Linked DNA regions of Homo sapiens: all the other regions are linked to region 2. The links come from fine-mapping of genetic effects on gene expression. A gene starts in region 2. Each other region holds a variant in brackets. All regions are shown on one strand. Distances are between the middles of the regions. Region 1 has its middle 24 kb from the start of MIR5089. Region 2 holds the start of GOSR2 (golgi SNAP receptor complex member 2). Region 3 overlaps WNT9B (Wnt family member 9B).

Region 1 (6,166 bases), 27 kb after region 2:
TCCAGCCTAGGCAAGAAGAGCAAAACTCCGTCTCAAAAAAAAAAAAAAAAAAGTAGGTGGCCTGGGATATTCCCTTTGTGGAAAAAAAAAAAAGAAATAGCTCAAGCTCAGTATTGCAGCCCTTAAACAGAAAAGTAATTAATAATTATGAGAGGCCAGGCATGGTGGCTCCCACCTTTAATCCCAGCACTTTGGGAGGCCAAAGCAGGTGGATTATCTGAGGCCAGGAGTTCGAGACCAGCCTGGCCAACATGGTGAAACCCCGTCTCTACTAAATATACAAAAACTAGCCAGGCAAGTTGGTGTGCGCCTGTAGTCCCAGCTACTTGGGAGGCTGAGACATGAGAATTGTTTGAACCCAGGAGGCAGAGGTTGCAGTGAGCCGACATTGTGCCACTGCACTCTAGCCTGGGTGACGAAATGAGACTCTGTTTCAATTTTAAAAAAACAAAAATTATGAGATGTCGCGGGGCAGCAGTCAAGTGCCAAGCAAGTGGGGTAGATATCAGAGGGTGGAGAGCCCACCCAGCAGTGAGAGGAGGCTGCAACTGACTGCTGCCCCTGGGGAAGGTGGGACGGGGGCCAGATTCACAGGGGAGCCATGTGAGCTTGGTTCTCAGCAGGCTGGGTTTGGAGTGGATTGTGGAAAGAGTAGGGACGTATTAGGGTGAAGCTGGAGGTGGGTGTGGAGGAAGGCCAGGGGACCCTGACATGAATGTGGATGCAGGAACCCTCAGCTGTCTCTGAAACCAGGAGGGCTGGGGAAGGACCCTGTGCATGTCCTAGATTCTGTGGCCCCAGGAGTTACTGCTCAGGAAGCAGGGCAGCCTCCTCTTTGGTGTATGTGTGCAAGAGAGAGGTCGTGGTGGGCTGTGGGTTGTTAGTCTCTCTCCCAGGAGCACCTGGCAACCTGAACTACCCCTGCTCCCTCCCCACCCTGCCCCAGATCTGGTGAAACCACCAACCAGGCGGAGGCAGGGCAGAGGCTGTCACTGCCACACACCTTCAGAGCTCCCTACAACTTACGTTCATGCTGCTGAGATACTGATGAGAGCTGGAGAAGCTGTCAGGCTGGTGTGGGTGTGGACAAGCCCCACTGTCCTAGGAAGACCTGGACATGATCTTTTTAGGTGCAGTGTAATGTGATGGGGGTGGTGGGATGATGTTTGAGATGGGGATGGCAGACATGGCTTAGAATCCTGACTTTGCTGTTTATTAGCAGCCTGACCTTGGGCTAATCACCCAAACCTCAGCGTCCTGTCTGTATAGTGAGAATAATAATAACTACCTCAAGTGGTAGCAAAAGTGCCTGTATTTGAGAGCTTGTCCGTCACTAGAAATAGTTTTTTTTTCTTTTTGAGATGGAGTTTCACTCTTGTTGCCCAGGCTGGAGTGCAATGGCACAATCTCGGCTCACCGTAACCTCCGCCTCCCGGGTTCAAGCGACTCTCCTGCCTCAGCCTCCTGAGTAGCTGGGATTACAGGCATGTGCCACCACGCCTGGCTAATTTTTCGTGTTTTTACTAGAGACAGAGTTTCACCATGTTGGCCAGGCTGGTCTCGATCTCCTGACCTCAGGTGATCCACCTGCCTTGGCCTTCCCAAAGTGCTGGGATTACAGACGTGAGCCACCGCGCCCAGCCTAGAAGTGATTTTTGTCAGGAGACAGAAGACCTTTAGTGATTGGAGTCAAGCAGGTGGAGTGTGAAGATCAGCTCTGCCCTTTAGCTGTGGAACCTTGAGCAAGCCACCTCACCTCTCCACGCCTCTGTTCTGTCACCTTTTGGAGATGAATAATGCCCATCTCACAGGGCAGCTGTGGCCAGTGCATACTGCCATGCCTGTAAAGTGCCTACTGCACAGCCCAGGACATAGAAAGATGGTAACTGAGGTTTTGTTGTGGTTGTTCACTAGCATTGCATAGGACCCAGGTCTGATCCCTTCATTCAGCTGGTGTGATTGTGAGTCAAGGATCTGATATCCCCAAAGAAAGGACTGCAAGTATTTGCCAGTCAGACTTTATTTGTTACAAGATACGATATTGCACATGTATTCCTGTGTTCTTCATCAGAAGACCTGAATTCAAATCTCCAGTTCATTACCTATTAGGACTTGCTCACTCCCTCTTTCTCTCCCAGCCTCAGTGTCCTCGTAGGGGAAATGGGAATGCTAATAATGGCCTACTTCACAGAACTGTGGTGAAGACAAAGCCAATCAAGCATGTGGATCAGTGAGTATGCGCAGGGCTGCAAGGGCCAGAAATCCCAGGATCTTACTGCTGGGGTTAGATACTGATCTAAGGAGCTTAAGTAGTAAGAACTGTGGATGTGGGGCAGCCTGCAGAGCTGGTTGATTTAGGGCTCGGTGACATCATCAAGGCTGGGCTTGGGACTGCCTGGGTTCCCTGAGAGGCGTGGAACCATGGTGGGAAGATGTAGGAAAGATGAGGATGATGATTGACAGATCAGTCTGGAATTGTTGCCTGCTAAAGTTCATTCATCCATTCTTTCGATAGCTACGAACTGAGCACCCACCAGGTGCCAGTCACGGGACTGGGCCTTGGAGAACAGAC[G/A]TGACCCACCTGCATTGTGATCCACTGCTGTGTAACAAATCACCACAAAACATAGGGGCTGACGGCAATAGCTCTCAGTTGCTACACCTCACAGCCTCTGAGCATAAGAACTGGGGACCAGGCGTGGCTGGGATAGCTGTCTCTGCTCAGCGATGTCTGGGGCCTCAGATGGAAGATTTGAAGGCTGGGAGGAGAATCATCTGAAGGTTCACTGATGTGGCTGGCACACAGTGTCGCTGGGCACACAATGTCGCTGAGCCCTGGACTGGGGCTATCCTCTGGAACACCTGCACACGGCTTCTCCATGGGACCAGGGCTTCCTCAGGGCATGATGACTGAGTTCCAAGAGTGAGTATCCCAAGGGAGAGAGCAGGTGGGATCTGTGTACTTTCTATGACCAAGCCTCGGAAGTCATAGGGCCTCTGTTCTGCCATACTCCTTTGGCCGTGGTGATCACAAGCCATATGGTCACAAGCCCCCAGCTGCCTCTCAGTGGGAAGAATGTGGGTCACATTCTAAGAAGAGCAGGTGGGATGGAATTGACACGGTGGGTGGCCATCTTTGGAGAGTACAATCTGCCACACTCCCCTTGAATGATGCTCACGTCTAGCTGGGAAGACATACATGAGCATGCAGCAATAAAGTGCACAAACCGTCACACAGGTACAAGGTGCTTAGGGCCATGGCAGAAGTAGTATCTACTTACCCTGGAACCCTGGAGGAGGCTTTTGAGCTGAATCTCAGATGAGTCAGACTGGAGCAGGTGGAGCCTGGGCGGACGGTCTCAGCAGAGGGAGTCATCTAGCAAAGGGGTGTGCTCTGGGAAGGGCAGGAGGATTCTGTGGCTGGAGCTCAGGCTTCAGGTTCAGTGTGGAGGAGGGAAGAAAGGCTGCAGAGGTAAGTTGAGGCCAGACGCGGGGTGCCTAAGAGCAGACTCATTAGTCCCTGCCCTCCTCCAGTCCCTGGTCCTCTGCACACAGTAGGCACTTCATAAATATTGATTGAAATTGGAGTGAGCAGTGTGTGTTGAAGAGGAAACCAAATCCCAAAGAGAGGCCGTGGGGCCTCCTGGAGGGAGCATGGGATAAAGACAGGGAGAACCCACTTTCATATCATAGGAACTTGAGATTCTCTTTCTCAGTTGTTGCCTTTCCAGTATTTTTCAATGTCTCTGCAAGAGTTCACGGGGGCTGAGAGCAGCCCCTGAGTCACTTCTCGTTCCTATCCCTCACCCCCAGCTGGATTCTTGGGTCTTCTTCCCTCCATACTGGTCCCCAGAGAGTGTGGACTCTCTGCCTCTTGTAGGTGAGGAGGAGGCGGCTGGCTGAGGAGGTGGCAGAGGCAAGTGAAAGGGCCAGGAGGGTGAGGATGGAGAGAAGGGGAGGGAAAAGAAGGAGATGGAGGGGGAGAAGATGAAGTTGCTAAGTGTATGATCAGTGCCAGAGCCAAAAGCCCATACTACAAATTGCTTTTTCCTTCACACTTGTCCCAGGGAAAGGCCCAATTAAAATAGCACCTATTGGAAATGGAAGGGTAATTGGACCAGGCAGCTTATTAGGCCCATCTCCAAGAGCATTCAGGGGCAGCCATGAGCTTCAGGAATTTCCACCATGTGAACTTAGCGGGGGAGATGACCCCGAGCAGCAAGGGCTGACAGGATGGGGCTGCCCCACCATCCTGCCTGCCCGGGGCCCTGCTCAGTGGCTTGAGAGGGCAGGGACTGGTCTGTGTGGGGGCACTCTTCTGTGGTGGGGTAGTTCAGTGGGCTGAGACATGGGGCTGATGAGATCAAAACTGTCCAGTTCCAAATCCCAGAACAGAGGAAAAGCGGGGCCAGAAGTGGTCTTGGGGACCACCAAGCCAGACTTTCTGGGGGAGAATGACTTGCCAAGGGTGACCCAGTCGGTGATGAGAGATCTGGAGTCAGAGGGGGAAGTCACCGACTCCCAATCCAGTGCTGCTGCCCAGGGACAGTCTCACCATGCCACGCTGTCCTAAACTAGCCTGTGGCCCTCGCCCCAACTACACGCCCATGGCCTGTCACTGTACCATGTTCATGCCAGGCACAGCTAAGTCAGGGTGGCAGGAGCCACGCCAAAGGCTTCTCCAGCTTGAGGGCATCATCTCTCCACACCCCTCAGTTATTGACAGAAACTGGCACACGCACTGCCAGACCACGCTGTCCCTAGGAGGAGGCAGACAGAGGTGGACGCAGCCCACAGGCTTGGCTGGAACGGCGGGTTCCAGAGGTGCCCGCTGGCCGCCCACAGTGAAGTCTGGTAGGGGTGGCACTCTCCCCACAGGTTACCCATTGGACCAGAGCTCATCCACCCAGAGCCCATTTCCATGACAACAGCAAGCTCCTTACCCATCAATTTCATCCTTAAAGATTCCCACCCCAGCTTTCTGAGCCTGGGCTCCTCGCCCAGCTGCCGCGCCAGCCCACGTCTCCAGATCACAGGTTTAGCAGTGACTTGTCAAGCTGCCAGAGAGAGCCTCCTGGGAGGTGCCTTTTAACTGGCGTAGCCCTTGAAAACGACCATATAATCACCTGCTAATTGGATTAGGAACTTGTTCCCAGGGACTTTCTTTTGCCCCCATGTTGAGGCCACCCTACTCCATTCTTCCGGAACTTAGCATTGGAGAGCTTCCCCGTTCCCCTCTGCACAACCTCCCAGGCCAGGGTAATGCTGACAGGGTTGCCCCAAAGTCAGATAGTGACACAAGAGGAAAAGGAAACCTCTAATTTTCTGGGGCCCAGGTACACTCAGAGAGGAAAAATGGCCCAGGGTGGGAGAACACACAGGGCCCTCTCTTCCCCCACTCTGCCCGCCTTTCAGCCTTGCAAGAAAATCTGGCTTTTCCCTCGGGGTGTTTGCCTCGCTGCTTCTCCCCCCCAGACATCACCTCCCTCACAGCCCAGCTCCATGTTCACCCCCACCAGGAAGTCTTCCTTTCTAAACCGTTTTTCTCTGCATCCTCTCAGAGTGGCTATATTTGGTTCCTGCAATATAACTTCGTATATATTGCATCAGGGAGAGGGGGAGATTCCTGAAGCTGGGTTGTTATTTTTTGTGAAGCTATTTTTTTGGTGCATTTTCTTTCTATTCCAGAAAATTCTTATAGTGGGTGGATGTCATTTATCTACCCAGCATCTCGTCTTTGGACTACAAATCCTTATCCCCTTCTGCTGGTGCCATTGTCTCTCCTTCCTGTGGAAAACCTGTGCCACGGGACTCAGCGAGGGCTGCCTCCTCCAGCAGGGTCAGCGCCTGAAGCAGGCCTGGTCCATGCAGGACTGGGTCAGCAGCCCAAAGCAGTCGGTTTGGGGTGACCACATGACTGCGCGGTGGGCCGATCAGAATCTTCCCTGGAATTCCCATAGACACTGCTGGTTTCCTGACCAACATCCATTCCTCCCCTATTCTCACTAGCTACACGCCACTTTTGTTGATCTAGCAAGAAGTCCAGTTGAAGATATTTGTGCCTCTAGACTTTCTTGCAGGTAGGGGTCAGGTCACCCAATTCTGGTCAATAAGATATGGGCAGAAGTTGCTGGGAGAGACTTCTGGGAAAGGGTTTCAAAAGGAACAT
Region 2 (6,166 bases):
TAACCCCAGCACTTTGGAGGCCAAAGCGGGTGGATCATCTGAGGTCGGGAGTTCGAGACCAGCCTGACCAACATGGTGAAACCCTGTCTCTACTAAAAATACAAAAATTAGCTGGGCGTGGTGGTGGGTGCCTGTAATCCTAGCTACTCGGGAGGCTGAGGCAGGAGAATTGCTTGAACCCAGGAGGCGGAGGTTGCAGTGAACCAAGATTGCACCATTGCATTCCAGCCTGAGCAACAGAGCGAGACTCCATCTCAAAAAAAAGAAAGAAAGAAAGAAAAAAAAATTCCTATGATCTCGTTCTAACCTTTCTTCGACTACTATTATTGCCCCAAACACCCTGAATCCAGCCAGAGGAGATTCATGTTCTTTCCTTCTGTTTGCCTTTGCTCAAGCTATTCCCTCAGCCTCAAATGCCCTCCTCTTCATCTCTACCAGGCAGACACAATAAACATTTTCAGAGTGGTTAGTATATACAAGACACTGTTAAAATTCTATTGATTCTTGAAGGTCTTATTCATATGCTATTTTGTCCATGAACCGTTCTTGCCCTTCCCACGGAAATGGTACTTTGTATCAATTGTAGCATGTATTCTACTTAATAATGTAGCTTGAGGGTATGATTAGTTCTCCCAACAGACCATGAGAGATATGGGAGGTTTTAGGGCTGTGTCTTGCTTGTGTTCCTATCTCCAGTATCTGTGCATGGTACATTGTAGATGCTCAATTATAGAAAAAGTGAAAAAAATAATTTTAGGAAAAGAATGTACATGGGTGGACAGTCTCTTGGGACACAAAACTGGGTGGGATCCAGGATCCAGGAAAAGAGAAGTATCAACTTGTCCAAGAAAAGAATGTCTCCTGCCTTGGGAGGAATAGTAGATAAGCTTGGAGGATGGAAACGGGATAGCCTATGTGGAGACAGAGAAGTGTCCAAACCCAGTCCCAGCTCAAATGCCACCCCTTCATTAAGTCTCTCCTAAATCTCCTCCTAGAGACGACCCCCAGCTCAGCTCAATCTCTTTGGATTTTCTACCTTCTAGAATGTTTGTCTTGATAAATAAAATTCATAGAAAGCCATTGGTTTGGACTGAGCTCCTGCACTAGGCGCAACAGGCCAAACCAAAATAGAGTCACTCATGCTAAAGTTCCAAGCCACAAAGCCAAAATTAAGCTGCTCATCTGACCTTAGGAGAAATCAGAAGAGAGGGAAAATAGCCATATCCCCATGATAAAGGAAGTCCCTTCTGCCTTAACCAATACAAGTAAAATAACTTTGAAACTTGTTCTTTGTTTCTGCTTTTTTTTTTCAGCCCTTTTCTGTCTATAAAGATAATCTCCTCTGCTCAGCTCATCAGAATACTCATTCTATTTTATAGAATAAGGTGTTGCCTGGTGCTAGAATCGCAAATAGCCAGTTAAGATCTGTAACTGTGTTGTATTAAAGGAGAGAAGGTTAGCACTCCCTTTGACAAGGATGGAAGAGGCCCTTGGGCCTGACAACACGCATACGGTTAAGGCATTACCACCTACTTCGTGGGATCTAACCATCGTTTTTGAAATGGTGCTGGGAAAACTAGCTAGCCATATGTAGAAAGCTGAAACTGGATCCCTTCCTTACACCTTATACAAAAATCAATTCAAGATGGATTAAAGACTTACATGTTAGACCTAAAACCATAAAAACCCTAGAAGAAAACCTAGGCAATACCATTCAGGACATAGGCATGGGCAAGGACTTCATGTCTAAAACACCAAAAGCAATGACAACGAAAGCCAAAATTGACAAATGGGATCTAATTAAACTAAAGAGCTTCTGCACAGCAAAAGAAACTACCATCAGAGTGAACAGGCAACCTACAGAATGGGAGAAAATTTTTGCAATCTACTCATCTGACAAAGAGCTAATATCCAGAATCTACAATGAACTCAAACAAATTTACAAGAAAAAAACAAACAACCCCATCAACAAGTGGGCGAAGGATATGAACAGACACTTCTCAAAAGAAGACATTTATGCAGCCAACAGACACATGAAAAAATGCTCATCATCACTGGCCATCAGAGAAATGCAAATCAAAACCACAATGAGATACCATCTCACACCAGTTAGAATGGCGACCATTAAAAAGTCAGGAAACAACAGCTGCTGGAGAGGATGTGGAGAAATAAGAACACTTTTACACTGTTGGTGGGACTGTTAACTGGTTCAACCATTGTGGAAGACAGTGTGGAGATTTCTCAGGGATCTAGAACTAGAAATACCATTTGACCCAGCCATCCCATTACTGGGTATATACCCAAAGGATTATAAATCATGCTGCTATAAAGACACATTTACATGTATGTTTATTGCAGCACTATTCACAATAGCAAAGACCTGGAACCAACCCAAATGTCCAACAATGACAGACTGGATTAAGAAAATGTGGCATATATACACCATGGAATACTATGCAGCCATAAAAAATGATGAGTTCATGTCCTTTGTAGGGACACGGATGAAGCTGGAAACCAACATTCTCAGCAAACTATCGCAAGGACAAAAAAACAAACATTACATGTTCTCACTCATAGGTGGGAACTGAACGATGAGAACACTTGGACACAGGAAGGGGGACATCACACTTCGGGGCCTGTTGTGGGGTGGGGAGAGGGGGAAGGGATAGCATTAGGAGATATACCTAATGTAAATGACGAGTTAATGGGTGCAGCACACCAACATGGCACATGTATACATATGTAACAACCCTGCACGTTGTGCACATGTACCCTAGAACTTAAAGTATAATAATAAAAAATAATAAAATAAAGAAAAAAAATCTATAACTACATTTCTTGTAATTTTGTCTTTTGAGAGTATACATATCTTATTTCCTTTCCCAGACCAGAACCTCTTTGAGGGCAGGAGGAACCCGGTTTTCCCTACTTTACACATGACACATAATAACCACTCATTCAATGTAGGTTTACTGGATGGATAAATAGGAATGGGGGGTAGATAGGCGGGAGAGTGAGTAGACAAATGCGAAACAGGAAAAGCTTGCGCCAGGAAAAACAGTGAAGAGCGAAATCTCCAGACCCCCGATTAAATGGTTTAAAGTGAAGCCAAGCAAGAACCTCCAGTCCTCTCTGCGGCAGAGAACAGCAGATGATAGCGGCTCGCCTTCAACTTTGCTCTGAGGACCTCTCGTTAGTATCCCGCGATTGTCCTTCCTAACGCCTGACTGAATCCTGAGGCTAGCCTTCAGCGAACATGTACACCGCCTTGCCCTTCACGTGAAGCCGAGCCTGTGACTACACTTATCCTTCCGTCGCCGGCCTCATTTCTCCTTCCCCTTCTCCGATCTCGCAACCACTGCTAGTAAGGCGCGCGTGCGGGCAGCCCTGGCCGGCAGGGGAGGGAGGGTCCTGCGACCGGAAGCCGGAAACCGGAAGGGGGGCTGTGAGGACGTGTTCCGAGGAAGCCAGAGCCGGAGCCGTGGCCTGCGGGGCCGGCGACATGGATCCCCTGTTCCAGCAAACGCACAAGTGAGGGCCGGTCGGGGAGCGGGCAGGGGCTAGACGAGGCGAGGCCAGGTGAGCCTGGCTTCTGGGGCTGAGGCCTCGGACGTCAGCCAGGGTAGAGGCCGAGTTTTTCCGCCAGGGCACTGCTGGGGATGCCTCCGAAGTGCTTAATCCTTGGCGGGACTCCCAGGTCAGCCACAGACAGTGGGTTCAGGCTGGGGCCTGGAGACGTGGGGCAGATGACTCCTGGGGTCTGCAAGTTCGTGACTACCTGCTGGGTAGACTGGGTGACGGGAAACTGGCACCTGCAGGTTATAAAACTTTGTCCAGCACTTGTCAACTCGGTGCTCCTGGTTGGTAGACCTCGAGAGGAGACACGGAGTAGGAGACACGGCCCCTGGCCGTAGGAGTGTACTGTTTAATTGGAGAGTCAGGGCACGTACGGGAAAGTATTTGTATTCTTATTCGATTTATACTAAAGACCACATTTTTATGGTACAAAGAAATTGCTGTCCACGTAGCATTCACTATTATTACTTGTTAATCGTATCTGGTTACAGGTTATCGCTAAGAAAATCAAATTGTAATTTAGTTTCTCATAACTTAAATTCCTTGGTAGTGTCCTTTATTCGCATCGTCCTGCACTTTCGGAATTGCTGAGATACGTAGTTGAGTATTAATGGGGCCATACTTACCCTATTTTTGGGGGCGGGGGGCAGAATTATGATTTTTACCCTGTTTTGGAGGGACGGAATTTTATGATTTTTATTTTTTATTGTAAAATATACACAACATAAGATTTACTGTTTTAACAATTTTTAAGTGTACAATTCAGTGACATTGAGTACATTCACAACTTACATCACTACGATCCATTTCCAGAACTTTTTCATCATCCCAGTGTGCCTGTTAATCAGTAGCACTTCATTTCTTCCTTCCAGAACACCTAGTAACCTCTGTTTTACTTCTCTCTATGAGTTTACCTATTCTAGATACTTAATATAAGTGGAGTCATACAGAATTTGTCCTTTTGTATCTGGCTTATTTCACTTAATGTTTTCAGGGTTCATCTATATTGTAGCCTGTTACCAGAATTTCATTCTGTTTTATGACGGAATAATATTCCGTTTTATGTGTCTACCACATTTTGTTATCCATTCATCTGTTGATGGACACTTGAGTTGTTTCCACCATTGGGCTGTTGAGAATAATACTGCTATGAACTCTGGTGTAGAAGTATCTGTTTTAGTTTCTCTTCTCAATTTTTTGAGGTATATACCTATCCTATTGAGAACTTTCAAACTTATGCTGTAGTTTTGTTGATTAAAACACTTAAAATCACACTCCCAAGGCCTGGAAATGAAATGCCCTGAAGCATGAGGAATAAGAGGGTGATGATCCTCTTTCTCTTTCATTTTCTAAGTTTATGGGTTTCTTTTATTTTGGCGATGAGGTGTTTCATTTGGACAGGCGAAAATACAGAACCTACTTTGTAATGACAGAATTTTCTTTTACACTGGGGAGCCCTATTCTCACATAAACGTTATAGGAAGGGACTTAAAACTAGTCTGTGAGTAATTTAGAGAAAGAATGAAACGAAATTATGTTCATGTTACTAAGAAAGGGCCTATCTTTCACAATAGCAGGGCACAATGGGCATAGTAGTGCCTTGAAGTTAATCTGTTATGTATGGTCTTATCTAGTTAATTTAGTTAAAGGATGTTGCCAAGAAGGCCATGACCCATTTTATATTCAAGAATAACTTTATTTAGAGAGTCTTAGACTACCTGTTTTCAGTGCAGCTAATCACAGAGAAAACTGCATGGCTCAGAAGAGGAATTCTAAATGGTACCCCAAACAAGGTGTGTGGAGTGTAGATGCTCTGTAGGCCTCCAACAATGCACCCTTGGACTCTAGCAGCTTGCCAGTTTTTTCTATTAAGGGCCAGATAGTAAATATTTTAGGCTCTGTGGGCTATACGGTCTCTGTAGTTACTACTCTGCTGTTATATTGGGAAAACAGCCATAGACAATATGTAAACTAATTGATGTACCTGTGTTCCAGTACAATTTTATTTATCAAAACAAGCAGTGGGCCAGCTTTGCCCCACAACTATTAGGCCCTCTGCTACCCCGACACTCATTAATTCATTGAATATTTATTGAGCACCTACTATGTGCTGTGCACCATTCTCAGTGCTGGCAGCACAGCCCTGCCCTCGAGGAGTTTACCTTCTTTTATGCTGCAGTATCTTGTCTATCTTTCCTCTCCAGTGCTGAACCAGGAGTGGGAGTTCTGGTTCTAGACCTCCTTACTTTATTTTTCCTCATCTGTAGAATGATATTATAATTTGGGCTGGTTAAACTGTAAGGCTCCTTTCAGTTCCATGATAACAGAACTGATGACTGAATGACTTTCACAAGAAACACGTGGAGTCCAGTGAGCACCAGCAATGAACTTTCGCAACTGCAGAAATTAGTGATTGTAGCTGAGTTGACACAACAGTAGCTGAACTTATTAATTTTACTGGAACTTTGAACCCAGTTTGTGATTATCTCTTGCCGTGTCACTGAATACATTGAGTACATTGGAATTAGATTGACATATTAAAGTTACTTGAAAACTCCTGAACCTACCTGAACAATGAATGAATGAAAAT
Region 3 (5,000 bases), 46 kb before region 2:
CCTAGGCCAGCTGCTCTCCACGGTCTGCAGCCAAGCTAATGGCCTCTCTCTGTGTCTCTCTCGGGACATCACCAGCACCCAGATGCACTGGAGGGCAGGCAGGAAGTAGTGAGCTGGTGGGAGGCCAGGTTTGGGCCACACCCAGCAGAGAGGAGTGTCGGTGGTTCTGGAGTGGGTGGGATGGTCAGTCTGAGGCAAGTCAGCCAGGAGACTCAAGGTCACTGTATCATTGGGTCTATTCCACAGTGGGTAGCAGAGAATGACATTTGAGAACCATCATGTGTCATAGGAAGCCCATGGGGCTTATCTCAGGGGCCTCAGAAATGGGCCCATCCAAATGGTCATACACCGACCTGGAGTCAAAATGGCAGGTTTAGCCCCAACTGTGCCTACGCCAGGTGTCTGAGTAGCTTCTCTTTGCATCTCAGTGTTCTTCTCTGAGAGGTGAAGGCCGTAGCCCCTGGCCTGCTGCCCTCTGGGAATCTGGGAACATACTCCATAGTGAATTTGTAAATTCCATTTATTTATTTATTTATAAATTAAAAAAATTTTTTTGAGACAAGGTCTCCCTCTGTCACCCAGGCTGGAGTGCAATGGCGCAATCTCAGCTCACTGCAACCTCCACCTTCCGGGTTCAAGTGATTCTCCTGCCTCAGCCTCCTGAGTAGCTGGGAATATTGGCATGTACCACCATGCCCGGCTAATTTTTGTATTTTTAGTAGAGACGGGGTTTCACCATATTGGCCAGACTGGTCTTGAACTCCTGACCTCAAATGATCCGCCCGCCTTGGCCTCCTAAAGTGCTGGGATTAGGGGCACGAGCCACTGTGCCCAGCCTGGAAGTTCCATTTAAATGGCAACTTGCAGTCAGAATTTAAGGGGCAGTTGACAGGGAGACCCACCCGGAGCTGTGTCCTCAAGCCACATTCTCTTGTCCTGCCCATCACAGCGCTGCCACCACCGCCTCTGGCCCTCAGAGGGCGGCAGGCAACCTCTAAGCTTCCTCCTTTCCTCTCTTCCCCCTTTCCTCCCTCCCTATGCCCCTGGGTGCCCGATCCAGGCTTCAAAGAGACAGCTTTCCTGTACGCGGTGTCCTCTGCCGCCCTCACCCACACCCTGGCCCGGGCCTGCAGCGCTGGGCGCATGGAGCGCTGCACCTGTGATGACTCTCCGGGGCTGGAGAGCCGGCAGGCCTGGCAGTGGGGCGTGTGCGGTGACAACCTCAAGTACAGCACCAAGTTTCTGAGCAACTTCCTGGGGTCCAAGAGAGGAAACAAGGACCTGCGGGCACGGGCAGACGCCCACAATACCCACGTGGGCATCAAGGTGAGCATGTCCCTGGCTGCCCGCAGTGCCTTCCCACCAGGGTACACAGCTGGGGAGCATGGCTTGAAGGAGGCCAGCACCCCACTCCCCAAAATACATGAAGAGCCGTGAACTTCATAAAGGCAGGATGAACTTCACGTCTTCAACCAGCATTCCCTTGGCATCTACTCTGGGCTGTGACTGGGTGCCAGGAACACAGCGGAAGCATGGAAGGGTCATGAGTGTCATTGGTGGAAGCAGTGGTCACCAGTGGGAGCCAGGCTTAGGACTAGGTCTGGTGAAGCAGGGACATGTTTGGAGAGGGGTCTCCATTCCAAGGACCAGGCCTTCCTGGAGGTCCTGGAAGCCCAACATTGTTTGAAAACCTCCATCTAGAGCAACTGCCCACTTCTCCATTTTATGGGTGGGAAGATGGAAGTGGCCCAGAGAAGGGAAGGGGCTGAGGTTACACAGTAGTGGGAGGTCTGGAGGGTGAAAAGTATCTTGGTCTATTGAGGGGAGGAGGCTGGGAGACACCAGTGCTCTAGCTGTTTATGAGATTAAGTTCTGAGTTGTCATCACTGAGTTGTGAACCGGGGCTGCTGTGTTCAATCATTGAGTTGGTGTGAACCGGGGCTGCTGTGTTCAGTCACTGAGTTGGTGTGAACCGGGGCTGCTGTGTTCAGTCACTCAGTTGGTGTGAACTGGGACTGCTGTGTTCAGTCGCGTAAGTTGTCTATTCCACAAGAACTCCAGGCCAAGGGGAGGAGCTGGGGCTGAGACCCTGGGTCTCTTTCCCATTCTCCTGCCTCTGCCCTGCTGGGGTTGGTGCTCTGGGGGCAGGCTCTGGCTGCTGGGCCCAGGCCTCTGACCACGCCTCTGTTCTGCCTCCCCCACAGGCTGTGAAGAGTGGCCTCAGGACCACGTGTAAGTGCCATGGCGTATCAGGCTCCTGTGCCGTGCGCACCTGCTGGAAGCAGCTCTCCCCGTTCCGTGAGACGGGCCAGGTGCTGAAACTGCGCTATGACTCGGCTGTCAAGGTGTCCAGTGCCACCAATGAGGCCTTGGGCCGCCTAGAGCTGTGGGCCCCTGCCAGGCAGGGCAGCCTCACCAAAGGCCTGGCCCCAAGGTCTGGGGACCTGGT[G/C]TACATGGAGGACTCACCCAGCTTCTGCCGGCCCAGCAAGTACTCACCTGGCACAGCAGGTAGGGTGTGCTCCCGGGAGGCCAGCTGCAGCAGCCTGTGCTGCGGGCGGGGCTATGACACCCAGAGCCGCCTGGTGGCCTTCTCCTGCCACTGCCAGGTGCAGTGGTGCTGCTACGTGGAGTGCCAGCAATGTGTGCAGGAGGAGCTTGTGTACACCTGCAAGCACTAGGCCTACTGCCCAGCAAGCCAGTCTGGCACTGCCAGGACCTCCTGTGGCACCCTTCAAGCTGCCCAGCCGGCCCTCTGGGCAGACTGTCATCACATGCATGCATAAACCGGCATGTGTGCCAATGCACACGAGTGTGCCACTCACCACCATTCCTTGGCCAGCCTTTTGCCTCCCTCGATACTCAACAAAGAGAAGCAAAGCCTCCTCCCTTAACCCAAGCATCCCCAACCTTGTTGAGGACTTGGAGAGGAGGGCAGAGTGAGAAAGACATGGAGGGAAATAAGGGAGACCAAGAGCACAGCAGGACTGAAATTTTGGACGGGAGAGAGGGGCTATTCCATCTTGCTTCCTGGGATGAATGGCTTGGAGCCAGCATGTTCTTGGGAGGTGAACTGCTGGGCTAGGAATGCCAAGGCAGGCAGTGCCAGCTGGAAGTGAAGGCGGGAGCCTGGCTGAGATGGGTCAATCGGGTCCTGTGGCCCTGCTCAGGTGCAGTGGGCTCCAGGTGTCACACACCTCCACCACTCCCCTGGTTTTGCTGTGCCAGAGATGGGGAGAAAGCACAGGTGGTAGAAGCCATCCGTTCAGAGAAAGGAGAGCTTTCTGTGCTTGAGTGGACCCGAGTGAGATCTGTGCCCTGGAGCCCTGTGTCCTTGATTTGGCTTTTCAAATATGCCTCCGCTGAGGCCTCATTCTTGTCTCGAGAGCTGGGTTATGCACACTCACCCAGCCGTGCTCAAAACTACCACCAGTGCAGGTAAGACAGGTGGGAGAACTAGCCACCAAGGCGGGACTCAGTGCACCTGAGGTTGAACAGGGAGACAACGGCCCCTCCCTGTGTTCCCTGCTGGCCAAAGGAATCTTCACTCCCAGCGCAGAGGAGGAGGGCAACAGCTTCCTGGTGCCTGGCAGTGACGTGGCGAGCTCAGTTTCTCAGCTGGCTCTTGAGTGAGCTTTGGTGACTTCCTGTGGCTGGGGCCTGCCTGGTCTGTGACACCCCCATACCAGCTGAGTTCACAATACTGAAGAACAGCTGGCTCACGAGCTATGACTTGAAGTTACATTTCTATTCTTGTGGCTGCTCATCTAGTTAAGGCTTTTGCCCTGGCTGGGGTTATAGGTGCTTGAGTCCTTGCTAAGCCTGGCTCCTGGGTAGCCTCCTTCAGTTCCTAATGGCCTCTCACTTGGCCCTCACTTTGGCTCTTACTTGAGGAGGAGACGTGACTTTGATAATTTCCTCAGATCCTGTGGACATTTTCAGCAGCACCTGCCAAGGCCCTCTGTGAAAGGAGGAGAGACTGGTACCTCCACACAGGCACACATGGATGCACAGCCCCTGGACCAGGCTGGGGGTTCCTGTTGCACATGCCTCTCTTGTTCAGGATGAAGACCTTGCAGGGGTCCCCTTGCTGGAGGCATTGTACTTCCCCAGAGTGGGGCCCGATGCCACCCAGGAGGAAGTGACTTCTTTCGGGAAGCCCTTGGCCACTTTGCTGGCCCTGCCACGCCCATCTGTCAGCTTCCTTTCTCCCTAAACCTAGAGTTGCTGACCCTTCACCAACACAGGAAATTTCAGAATCAGCTGAATGCTCAGAAACCTCGCCTGTGCCAGCTCCAGGACAAAGGCCCGCTGACTGTGCCCTGGCCAACTCCCTGAGACCTCCAAGGGCGAGGAGGAGCTGCCCAGTCTCCAGTGGATCAGGGCAGTCTGCTGGATGCTGGAAGGATTTTTGACTGCAGAGGCCCGGCTGAGAAGCCAAACTGACCTGAGCCCCTCTCGTTAAAATGACATTGCTGACCCAAGCACCTGGCCCACACCTTGGCAGCAGGAGAAAAATGGGGAGAGGGCTGGTTTTCTCCTTTCTTCCACTTCCCCACAGCATGGAGATTTTCTCTGCCTTCCCAATCCATCTTGCTCCTCCGAGACCCCAACTCTGCCTCCACCCAGGCTCAGTGCTGGGCGTAAGGCAGCAGGGACCTCACTGGCAGAGCAGGGGGCCTGGGAGCAACGTGGAGGCCAGAGCACCCTGATCCACCAACATGCCACCTGCATTCTGACTTCATGGCTGGCAGTGCCAGGGTCGTGGGAGGGCAAAGGGCAGGCTCTAAGGCATCTAGGCAGTGGCTGGCTGCTAACATGGACACCCCAAGTCAATGGCACAGTGCAGGTTCTGAGGGCTCCTTGGCTTGTGGGGTCTTCTCTGTCTGTCTCTCTCCCTCTCTTCTTCCTTGCTCTCATCCCTTTCTTTTCCAGTTACCCCTGAAGACCCACCTCGGCCCTCTTGGGGCCCCTGGGGACTAGAGTGACCACTGACCCCTCAT

Evidence for each region. PIP is the estimated chance that this variant, and not a neighbour inherited with it, causes the effect.
Region 1: its variant is the best candidate, but not a certain one, in a credible set for the expression of GOSR2 in T cells (TOPMed, PIP 0.60).
Region 3: its variant is the best candidate, but not a certain one, in a credible set for the expression of GOSR2 in whole blood (TOPMed, PIP 0.79).

The regions. Positions count from the first base shown.
Region 1 is chr17:46,946,428-46,952,593 of GRCh38, forward strand. It overlaps a transcript of LRRC37A2 not described here and a transcript of GOSR2 not described here. Among named protein-coding and RNA genes, the nearest start is that of MIR5089, 24 kb to the right of the region's middle. The variant G/A (reference allele first, on the strand shown) is at 2,573.
Region 2 is chr17:46,919,691-46,925,856 of GRCh38, forward strand. GOSR2 (golgi SNAP receptor complex member 2) reads left to right here and starts at 3,470. Exons shown (of 6, transcript NM_004287.5): 1 at 3,470-3,531. The coding sequence starts at 3,503. It overlaps GOSR2-DT (GOSR2 divergent transcript), which reads right to left and starts at 3,181. Exons shown (of 3, transcript NR_186460.1): 1 at 3,121-3,181. It also overlaps a transcript of LRRC37A2 not described here and the pseudogene RNU6ATAC3P. RefSeq lists an enhancer at 3,446-4,170.
Region 3 is chr17:46,874,041-46,879,040 of GRCh38, forward strand. WNT9B (Wnt family member 9B) reads left to right here. Exons shown (of 4, transcript NM_003396.3): 3 at 1,061-1,326; 4 at 2,205-5,000. The coding sequence ends at 2,678. It also overlaps a transcript of LRRC37A2 not described here. Among named protein-coding and RNA genes, the nearest start is that of WNT9B, 25 kb to the left of the region's middle. RefSeq lists enhancers at 2,379-2,979, 4,289-4,788. The variant G/C (reference allele first, on the strand shown) is at 2,450.